Homo sapiens: one gene and its partners. The protein of the gene in region 1 purifies or fractionates together with the protein of each later gene. This does not show direct contact. Each region holds a gene or a part of one and is shown in the gene's direction. Other genes may lie near its edges.

Region 1 (3,500 bases):
GTACAGTGGCGTGATTTCGGCTCACAGGTCACTGCAACCTCCACCTCCCGGGTTCAAGTGATTCTCCTGCCTCAGCCTCCTGAGTAGCTGGGATTACAGGTGCACGCCACCACGCCCGGCTAATTTTTGTATTTTTAGTAGAGATGGGGTTTCACCATGTTGGTCAGACTTGTGTTGAACTCCTTACCTCATGATCCGCCTGCCTCAGCCTCCCAAAGTGCTGGGATTACAGGCATGAGCCACTGTGCCCGGCCCAAAATCAGTCTTAGTCCCTCTAACAACAAACCTATTGTCTTGCTGGGGTTAGATAGAAGAAACAAGACAGTTATTATGAAGCGCCTTAGACACACGAAGGATAATTTAACGTGGACTATGCAAAGTGCAGAAGTAAACGTGGAGTGGAGCAATTAGGCCAAAAAATCCTTTGGGGGAAATGGATTTGAGACTGGTCTTTAAGGCGTATTACGAGTATGATTGAAGAAGAGGAAGAAATCAGCAAATTTGGGACTTGGCACTTTGTTTACCTGTTAAGCAACCAGCAGGTGCCTTCAGGTTGACATAGCTAAATGACCCAAATTGTCTGAGCACTAGAAAGTGTCATTTCTTAAAGGCTAACTTTCAAATTAATAATAGGCATTGAATACATAAGATCTGAGAGATGTGCTTGATTAATTCAGCCTTCCTAAGTGTTAAGTGTAAGTTATTTGACTTTTTTTAATTGACAGATTAAAATTGTATGTATTTGGCCAGGCCTGGTGGCTCATACTTATAATCCCAGCACTTTGGGAGGCCAAGACAGGAGGATAACTTGAGCCCAGTTCAAGACCAATCTGTGCAACATAGTGAGACCCCTGTCTCTATTAAAAAACTTATTTTTAAAAATCATATATATTTATGGTATACAACATGATGTTTTAAAATATGTATACATTGTGGAAAGGCCAAATCAAGCTAATTAGCATATGCATTACTTTACATACTTAACATTTTTTTGGTGATAATTAACTTTTTATATTTAACTGAACTTGGCCTAGCAGAAGCTCTCTAGTGTTTTGTTCATTTAATGTTGGGGAACATTTTGTTTTGTTTTTCATTTCTTCCTTGGACATTTTTGAGATGCAAGTAAATAATTCATTTTATCCAATATGCTTTTAGGAACATTCTTGGTTAGGAAAGTTTTGTCAGTTAATAATCCCTGGTCCTGTCTGGTGTCTGGTGTAGGATGCTTTGCTTGTTCCTTTTGACTCCCTCCTGAATTCCTTCTGTATAGCTTCAGAGAGTCTCCATATTTCATGCCTCAGTTTCTTGATGGTATATAAGATGGGAATCAGGCCAGGCTGAGTAGCTCATGCCCATAATCTCAGCACTTTGGGAGGCTAAGGCAGGTAGATCACTTGAGGTCAAGAGTTTGATACCAGCCTGGCCAACATGGCGAAATCCTGTCACTACTAAAGATACAAAATGCGCGAGATGACGTGGCGCATGCCAGTAATCCCAGCTACTCAGGAGACGGAGGCAGGAAAATCGCTTGAACCCGGGAGGCGGAGGTTGTGGTGAGCCGAGATCATGCTACAGCACTCCAGCCTGGGCAACAAAAGCAAGACTCCGTCTCAAAAAAAAAAAAAAAAAAAAAAAAAAAGATTGAAATTGTAGAATATTATGGTTGGAGAGATCTGAAAGGTCACATGATCTAACTCCCCATCCAGTACCTCAGTGTTCTCAACATGAGTGATATATCCATCTTGTTTCTAAAAGAAAAAAATCCTCCTGGATACCCAGTGTTATTTTCTTCTATTGTTATTTAAATGTGTTTAAACATAAATCTCGGTATAAGTCCTCATGTTTAAGTACTTTAATACAACCCTAGTGTAAGCTAAATAATCAAAGTAACAAAATCAGAAAACCGCAAATGAACATTATTCAACGTGACAGATAACATTGTTTTGCTGAAACAAAATCACCAGAGTTAGGTTTAACAATGGAAAGACACAGCCTTTAATCTGGTTATATTTGTAATAAGATTTCCTATTTTGACTTCAATAATATCAATGCAGAGAATGCTTGTTCTCATAAGTGTATTGCACAGAACAGTATGACTAATGTCAGGTCTTAAGTCGTTCAGGATAATCACATGTTCTGCCATCTAATAATCTTCAAATAAATGCTTATTTAATGAGGAGTCCCCCTGACAACTCTGTAAGGCTGTTTTGTCCACCATGTTCATGTGTTCACATGTGTGTTGGTTTATTCAACAAATGTTCACCAAGAGACTATATGTGCCAGAAACTGCTAGCACTGAGGGTACAGTGGCGAACCAAAGCAGATGGAGTCCTGGCAGGGTGACAGGCAGTAATCGGGCAATTACACAAACAGATGCAGAACTGCAACTGTGACAAATGCACTGAAGCACAGGGATGGGGCGCCAGGAGAGCCCAGACCACCCAGGGAGGCAAGGAAGGGCTTTTCTGAGGGGGACGCCTAGGTGGAGGTCCAAGGGTTGGCATAAACCAGGCAGAGTGGAGGAAAGCTTTCAAGGCAGAGGAAAATGCCTGGGGCCCATGGGGAGGGGCCTGTGGCACACCCCAGGAGCAGAAAGAATGCCTGGGTGGGATGGAAGGCCTCATGGCCTCAGGGATGTCAGGGAAAACTTTTAAGCAAAATGGGATAACATGATCAGATTCCTGTCCTGAAAGGATTACTCAGCGGTGGTTCACACTTGTAATCCCAGCACTTTGGGAGGTGGAGGTGGGTGGATCACTTGAGGTCAGGAGTTGAAGACCAGCCAGGCCAACATGGTGAAGCCCCATCACTACAAAAATCCAAAAATTATCTGGGCGTGATGGTGGGTGCCTGTAATAATCCCAGCTACTCAGGAGGCTGAGGTGGGAGAATTGCTTGAACTTGGGAGGCGGAGGTTGCAGTGAGCCACGATCACGCCGTTGCACTCCCGTCTGGGCAAAAGAGCAAAACTCCATCTCAAAAAAAAAAAAAAAAGGGATTACTGGGCCAGGTAGAGAAGAGGCCTGGAAAAAAGAAGGGAGGAGGCTTTTGCTTTAGTCCAGATGAGGGAATGTTGGTAGCTTAGAGATAGAGAGAAATAGATGTTTCCAAGGAGTATTTAATAGGTAAAAATATATAAAACTTCCTAAGTGTATAACTAAGAGAATTGAAAACATGTCAACATTGAAACTAAAAACATCATACACAGCCGGGCGCGGTGGCTCACGCCTGTAATCCTAGCATTTTGACAGGCCAAGTTGGGCAGATTGCCTGACCTCAGGAGTTCCAGACTGGGCAACACGGTGAAACCCATCTCTACTAAAATACAAAAAATTAGCCAGCTGTGTGTGATGCACGCCTGTAGTCCTAGCTACTCGGGAGACTGAGACATGAGAATTGCTTGAACCTGGGAGGCGGAGGTTGCAGTGAGCCAGGATCGCTCCACTGCACTCCAGCCTGGGTGACAGAGCAAGACTCCATCTCCAAAAATAAATAAATAA
Region 2 (3,393 bases), on another chromosome or scaffold:
ACTCCAAAGCCTGTGCTTCTTTGACTACAGTATACCCTGTGTTATTTAACCTCAGTTGAGATTCTTCTTTCGTAAACCTGGAGTGATGTATAACAGTAAGATTTGAGAACTTGCTCCTTGTCAGGTTTTATGCCTGGGATTTAACAGGTCTATCTCATTTGGCCCTTATTAACAGTCCCTAGGAGTAGACACTATTTTCTTCCCATTTGACAAGATGAGGAGTTTAAGGTAAGAGGTTAAATAACTTGCCTGAAGTCTCTCAGCCAGTAAGTATGGCTCTGACATTTGAACTGGCTTAGTAATTGCAGAGCATTTGCTTTTTTTTTTTTTTTTGAGACGGAGTCTTGCTCTGTCGCCCAGGCTGGAGTGCAGTGGCACGATGTCAGCTCACTGCAAGTTCCGTCTCCTGGGTTGAAGTGATTCTCCTGCCTCAGCCTCCCAAGTAGCTGGGATTACAGGCGCCCGCCACCATGCCTGGCTAATTTTTGTATTTTTAGTAGAGACGGGGTTTTGCCATCTTGGCCAGGCTGGTCTCAAACTCCTGACCTCAGGTGATCCGCCCGCCTCTGTGTCCCAAAGTGCTGGGATTACCGGTGTGAGCCACCGCGCCCAGCTGAGCTTTTGCTCTTTACCACTAAAGCAGCAGTTCCTAAATCTTGCTCTATCATCTGGAGAACAAATTAAGATTCTTGGCTAGTAGTTGGGGGCACAAACCCAGTTACTATTTTTTAAAAGATCTCCAGGTAATCTTGCCGAGCAGCACTGTAGTGTAGTCCACTGTACTGTAGTGCCTTCTTATCTTGTAGAGCTATTGTGAGGATCAGCACCAATGTCCGTAGAGGCCCTGACACAATTCCCTAAGCTGATATTTGATAGAGCCTTCCATAACTGATTGCTAAATTGTCTTCATAATTTTTCAGTAGCTTCTTTCAATAGGAAACATTTCTTTGCTACTATAGGAATTTGCAGCACCATCAACAGATGCCCCTGATAAAGGATACGTTGGTAAGTTAAATGGTTTTGTAATTTTAATACAAATACTTTTAACACATTTAATAATTTTTAGTTAAGTCCTAGTTAAGTTGATGTAAAGAAAATTATTCCTAATATTCGGAAATATTTATGAATAAAACAAATTCCTCAAAAGTTTTCCGTGTGTTAGTAAAAGATAGCATAATAGCAGGATATAGAATTTCATAAATTTAACCTTTATCAAACTTGTTTGCTCAATTTTTGTTTATACATTCATAAGTTACTAACCAAGAAAATAGAATTTTGGCTGGGTGTGGTGACTCACACCTATAATACCAGGATTTTGGGAGGCCAAGACAGCAGGATCGCTTCAGCCCAGCAGTTCAAGACCAGCCTGGGAAACAAAGGAGACCCCGTATCTACAAAAAAAATCAAGTTAGCTGGGTGTGCCAGTGCACACCTGTGTCCCAGCTACTTGGGAGGCTGAAGCAGGAGGATTGCTTGAGCCTGGGAGGTTGAGGCTACAATGAACTATAATTGTGTCACTGCATTCAAGCCTGAGTGACAGAGTGAAACCCTGTTTCAAAAGAAAAAAAAAATAGAATGGAATTTTTTTAAGTCAAAGAACTGTCATTGCACACCTTTTGTTTCCATAAAGATTCTTTGCTTTATACAACTGCTATTTTTTTCTTGCCTTGGAACCATCTGTTCTTTATGGTAGGAACCAACATTTTTTTTAAATGAGAAAAACAGTTGGATGTTAGCAGAGGGGCTATATATACTTCAGTTACAGATTGAGGTATTTTGAAAGATACCAGGAAAACTCGTAAAGGATTTAGAATTGAGGTCTAAAATAGATTTTTTAAAAAGGCATATGGGGGAAAAATGTCAGAAAAATAGAAATTTCATGGCTGGGAGTCTTAGAGAGACCAAACAGAATATAACTATAATGTTACAATGTATTCTACTCAGAAGAGCCTGTCCATGGCCACAGTTGCCTTTACTGTGGATTGATAATACCTTTAACACTTCAGTAATCCATAAATTGAAAAGTTTAGGCCGGGCATGGTGGCTCACACCTGTAACCTCAGCACTTTGCGAGGCTGAGGCGGGCGGATCACGAGGTCAGGCGATCGAGACCATCTTGGCCAATATGGTAAAACCCTGTCTACTAAAATACAAAAAATTAGCCGGGCGTGGTGGCGTGTGCCTGTAATCTCAGCTACTTGGGAGGCTGAGGCAAGGAAATCTCTTGAACCTGGGAGGTAGAGGTTGCAGTAAGCTGAGATCGCACCAATGCACTCCAGCCTGGCAACAGAGCAAGACTCCATCTCAAAAAAAAAAAAAAAAAAAAAAAGGTTTAGTTCATAGCTGCAGAGTGTTTCTTTCAGTTCCTAATGTGGATCTACCACCCCTGTGTTCATCGAGATTCCGGTCTGGACCTCCTGGAGAAGAGGCCCAAGTGGCTAGCCAGTTCATTGCAGATGTCATTGAAAAGTAAGAGCACCATGATAAAATTTTATTACAATTCATTTTCAGATAGTTTTGGGCTTTTCATTTACTTTGCTCTTTGTCATTAAATCAAGTTCACAGATAATTCAGAAAGAGGACTTATGCATTTCTCCAGGAAAGGTAAGAGGAATAGAGAAGCTATAAGTTCTTATTAATTCTGAAGGGATTTTTTTTTTGTGGGGGAAAGTGAACAAGGAAATTAAAACCACCAATCAAAGTAGCTTTAAATATGGATGTCTTACAGATTTTAGAGATTCAGTAATTTCTTACTCTATAATTCTCTAAATGAACCATATTGTTTATAAAAAAACAAGTTTGACTAACTTACTGCCTGTCTGGGAGCTACCTTTTAAACTGAAGTAATTTTTTTCCCCCTTAACTTTTAAAGTTCAATCATTTTTTATTCCTTATAGCAGATTATAACATTAATCATGTTAACATATGTTTATGGTGAATCCACACAGTAGATTCCAAAGTCTATTTGAAAATGTAAAACTAGGTTGATTAGAACCTAGAGAGGCTTTCCTACTAGATCATATAAACTGATACATTAGCACTGTAAAACTTAAACATTTCATGTATTATGAGAACGTGCATTTTGAATTTTAGCTAGGGCTTTCAAAACCATCTCCCTTATCTGTAACCTCCCAATGAGAATGGAAATTCCTTCTACATCTGTAGCTCCATTAAGGGAAATGGACATGTTTGTCATTTGTCAGCCTGGCAATCAAAAGCCAGCTTTCACAAAACCTGTCCACTTTCTTCTGGTTTTCTATAGAACTTTAAAAAGGTGAAGCATTTTCTTAAGGTTTTTGAGCCTTGAAAGTTATCTTGCTTGTTTAACCAAGGGTTCTGTGGTTCTTAAGTCTAAGCTAATAGCATGTTCTACCCATTAGAAGACTTTAATTT
Region 3 (3,729 bases), on another chromosome or scaffold:
AGACACTGTAGAAGGCTTTACTGGAACGTGGCCCTGAACTGGACAGACATTTTATGGATGGGCAGAGAGAGAAGGTATTGTGACCCCATTTTACAGAAGTGGAAAGTGAAGCCCAGAGGAAGGCGTGGAGGATCAGCAGCAGAGCTGGAACCGGTTGACTAAAGCTGTGGTCTTTGTCTGGCTGCTAGGCCTGGAGAAGAAACACATTAGGAAACTGAGGCAGAGCCAGCTGACTCCCAACCTGTGCTCTCTTTCCACTGTGAGCTTCCTGCAGGCAGCAGCGAGGTGGCTCTTCCTCCATTGCCCTGCCAGCTCTGTCACCGGGGAGTGGCTGCTACCCAAGTTTCGGGCCTGGCTTTGCCAGTGCCTCCCCCTCGTGTCTTTGGAAGGTTTCTTCCCCTCTCTGACCCTATTTGCCAACAAATGTGTGGTACGTACTTCAGTACATACCTATTGAATATTATTATATTCCCCATCTAACAGATGAGGAGATTGAGACTCAAGGAGTAAGTCACTTGTTCAAGGTCACACAGCTGAGCAAAACTAGGTCTGGAACCCAGGGCTACTTGATCCCCGGACCACTTTTAACCACTCTGCCATACTGCCCTTCTGTGACCGATTAGTGATGTCTGCCATAGGCATCAGCCTGGTGGAGGGAGGCATGGATCTGCTCTGCTGGCCAGGCCTACAGTAGAAACTTCTTAGGCTGGGCGTGGTGGCTCATGCCTGTAATCCCAGCACTTTGGGAGGCCGAGGCAGGTGGATCACCTGAGGTCAGGAGTTTTCAGACCAGCCTGGCCAACATAGTGAAACCCCATCTCTACTAAAAATACAAAGATTAGCCGGGTGTGGTGGTGGGTGCCTGTAATCCCAGCTACTCAGGAGGCTGAGGCAGGAGAATTGCTTGAACCCAGGAGGTGGAGGTTGCAGTGAGCCGAGATCACACCATTGCACTCCAGCCTGGGCAACAAGAGCGAAACTCCATCTCCAAAAAAAAAAAAAAGAAACTTAACCATTTCCTGTGGTGCTCAGCTCCTGGCCTGTTGTCTGAATGCCGCCTGCATGGCATTGGTGGATGCAGGTGTGCCCATGCGGGCTCTCTTCTGTGGGGTCGCCTGCGCCCTGGACTCTGATGGGACCCTCGTGCTGGATCCTACATCCAAGCAAGAAAAGGTAGGTGTGAAGACCAGGGTGGCTGAAGGGCAGAGGCCAGACAGCTGCCCGTCCCTTCCTCCAGGCCTCGCTTCTCTACAGACAGTCGGCTCATGCCACCTCAATCCCACTTAGCAAGGGCTGCTCTAATCATCATGGTTCATTTAGCAGCAAGTGCTGGAAACCCAGCTCAGACTTGCTTAATTAGGAAGGAAATGTGGGGCCGGGAGCGGTGGCTCACGCCTGTAATCCCAGCACTTTGGGAGGCTGAGGTGGGTGGATCACCTGAGGTCGGGAGTTCGAGATCAGTCTGACCAACATGGAGAAACCCCATCTCTACTAAAAATACAAAATTAGCCAGGTGTGGTGGCGCACGCCTGTAATCCCAGCTACTCAGGAGGCTGAGGCAGGAGAATCGCTTGAACCCAGGACGCGGAGGTTGTGGTGAGCCGAGATCGCGCCATTGCACTCCAGCCTGGGCAATAAGAGTGAAACTCCATCTCAAAAAATATAAATAAATAAACTAGAAAGGAAATGTATGGCCAGGTGTGGTGGCTCACACCTGTAATGCCAGCACTTTGGGAGTCTGAGGCAGGCAGATCACCTGAGGCTGGGAGTTGAAGACCAGCCTGGCCAACATTGCAAAACCCTGTCTCTACTAAAAATACAAAGGTTAGCTAGGCATGGTGGCACACATCTGTAATCTCAGCTACTCAGGAGGCTGAGGCAGGAGAATCACTTAAACCTGGAGGGTGGAGGTTACAGTGAGCTGAGATCGCACCACTTCACTCCAGCCTGGATGAAAGAGTGAAACTCTCAAAAATAAAATAAAATAAAACCAGGACTTTAAACACCATCAGGATGTCCTTGCTTCACTTCTCGTCCCTGCCTTTCTCTGCACATCAGCTTCATTCTTTCTGGCCAGCACCTTTCCTGAGGCTGGGACTGACCCCTTAAGCTCCATTTCCATCCTAGGAGGCTCAAAAGCAAACGAGAAGAGAGTTTTCCTCATCGGCTCAGGTGCAGTGTCCTAAGCTCAAGTTATTCTGAGTTTTCTGCCCAGTGCTATAATGGTCCCCTCTAGTCAAGAAGACGGAAACCACTTGGAGGGTTTCAGATGGAGGGAGTTAAATGCAGGGACTTTGTAACAACAGTGTTGAGGAACTAGAGGAGGAAAAAGGAAGCAGGAGTGACACCCAGAGATGAGAAACCCCTCCCAGACCTGGACTGAACCTGCGAGCCACCTCCTGTTCTGTCGTGTTGGAGACATCATCTCAATTGGTTCTGGATGCACATAGCATGTCCTGCTTCTGCCCTGGCCACTGAGGTCCAGAACCCACCCCACCTCCATGGCTGTCACACAGCCACAGCCATCAGCACCTGCCATTGTCCATGAGGACCAGGGTGCTGCTTTTCTTCCATTCTCCCACCTCATTACTGATGGAAACTAGCTGGTAAGGGAGTCTGGGAAATACAGCTTGCTGGCTTCCAGCCCCTGTGGGACAGAGCATGGAAGGGGGACTGGGAGGCCGAGAGGTACCAGATAAGTGAGTGGCACTATGGCTAGCCCCTTGGGGCAGGAATACTGAGCTTGGAAGCCCCTGTCAGAACCACGTGGTTGGAATAAGGGGCATGGAGTACAGTTCTACAAAGGAAAGGCAGAGGGCTATACCCAGGGAAGTAGGGAAGGGGTAGCGTAGACAAAAAATGGCTGCGCTTGATGCTTGATAGGTGAGCGCCTGGCTATGGAAAGGGAGAGGCCTGGAGGCCAAGGGTCCGGAGTCCCCTCAGTGGGACTGGCTGCAAGTGTGTGGTGGGAAGGGGAGCGTTGAGACAGGGTCTCACTGTCGCCCATGCTGGAGTGTAGTACGATCACAGCTCACTGCAGCTTCAAACTCCTGGGCTCAAGCAGTCCTCCCACCTCTGCCTCCTGAGTAGCTGGGAACTCAGACATGCACCCCCACACCCAGCTACCTTTTTTTTTTTTTTTTTTCTGAGATGGGGTCTCCCTCTGTTGCCCAGATTGGTCTTGAGTTTCTGGCCTCAAGCAGTGCCCTGCCTTGGCCTCCCAAAGTGGTGAGATTATGGTCATGAGCCACTGTGCCTGGCCAAAGGACTGGCTGAGATTTTATCTGAGGGGAAGGTCCTAGGTCCCCCACCGCCTTCTACCCCTTGTCCCTAGGAGGCCCGGGCAGTCCTGACCTTTGCCCTGGACAGCGTGGAACGGAAGCTGCTGATGTCCAGCACCAAGGGGCTCTACTCAGACACTGAGGTACCAGCATGGGGATGAGGGGAAAAGCCAGAACCTTCCTTCCCACTGACATACGGTCTTGTCCCAACTCTGCCCTGGATTCTGAGAGGCTTCAGGAGAGCCTCTTAAATTTCTTCTTGTAAAAAGGGAGTTTTCAAACTTTGTGGACCCAGAAACCTTTGCGGAAATGTTTAAGGGAAGCCCAATTTATAACACAGGCAAAAAGAGGATGAGCTCAGTTTGAAGTCAGAAGAGGGCATGTGATGGTCCCCCAGCTCCCAGCTCAGAGTGGTGAGCCATGGGAATTCCAGGTCTCAGGCTAAGGG

Evidence for each region.
Region 2: the proteins of DIS3L (region 1) and EXOSC8 purify together in Homo sapiens (affinity purification with mass spectrometry; 6 studies listed by BioGRID and IntAct, with this or other methods). This does not show direct contact.
Region 3: the proteins of DIS3L (region 1) and EXOSC5 purify together in Homo sapiens (affinity purification with mass spectrometry; 5 studies listed by BioGRID and IntAct, with this or other methods). This does not show direct contact.

What each region holds. Positions count from the first base shown.
Region 1 is NC_000015.10:66,296,568-66,300,067, forward strand, and holds part of DIS3L (DIS3-like exonuclease 1), read left to right. Parts: intron 1-3,500. UniProt on the Homo sapiens protein: Catalytic component of the RNA exosome complex which has 3'->5' exoribonuclease activity and participates in a multitude of cellular RNA processing and degradation events.
Region 2 is NC_000013.11:37,003,557-37,006,949, forward strand, and holds part of EXOSC8 (exosome complex component RRP43), read left to right. Parts: intron 1-959; coding exon 960-1,005; intron 1,006-2,363; coding exon 2,364-2,469; intron 2,470-2,558; coding exon 2,559-2,604; intron 2,605-3,393. UniProt on the Homo sapiens protein: Non-catalytic component of the RNA exosome complex which has 3'->5' exoribonuclease activity and participates in a multitude of cellular RNA processing and degradation events.
Region 3 is NC_000019.10:41,387,209-41,390,937, reverse strand, and holds part of EXOSC5 (exosome complex component RRP46), read left to right. Parts: intron 1-1,032; coding exon 1,033-1,173; intron 1,174-3,334; coding exon 3,335-3,424; intron 3,425-3,729. UniProt on the Homo sapiens protein: Non-catalytic component of the RNA exosome complex which has 3'->5' exoribonuclease activity and participates in a multitude of cellular RNA processing and degradation events.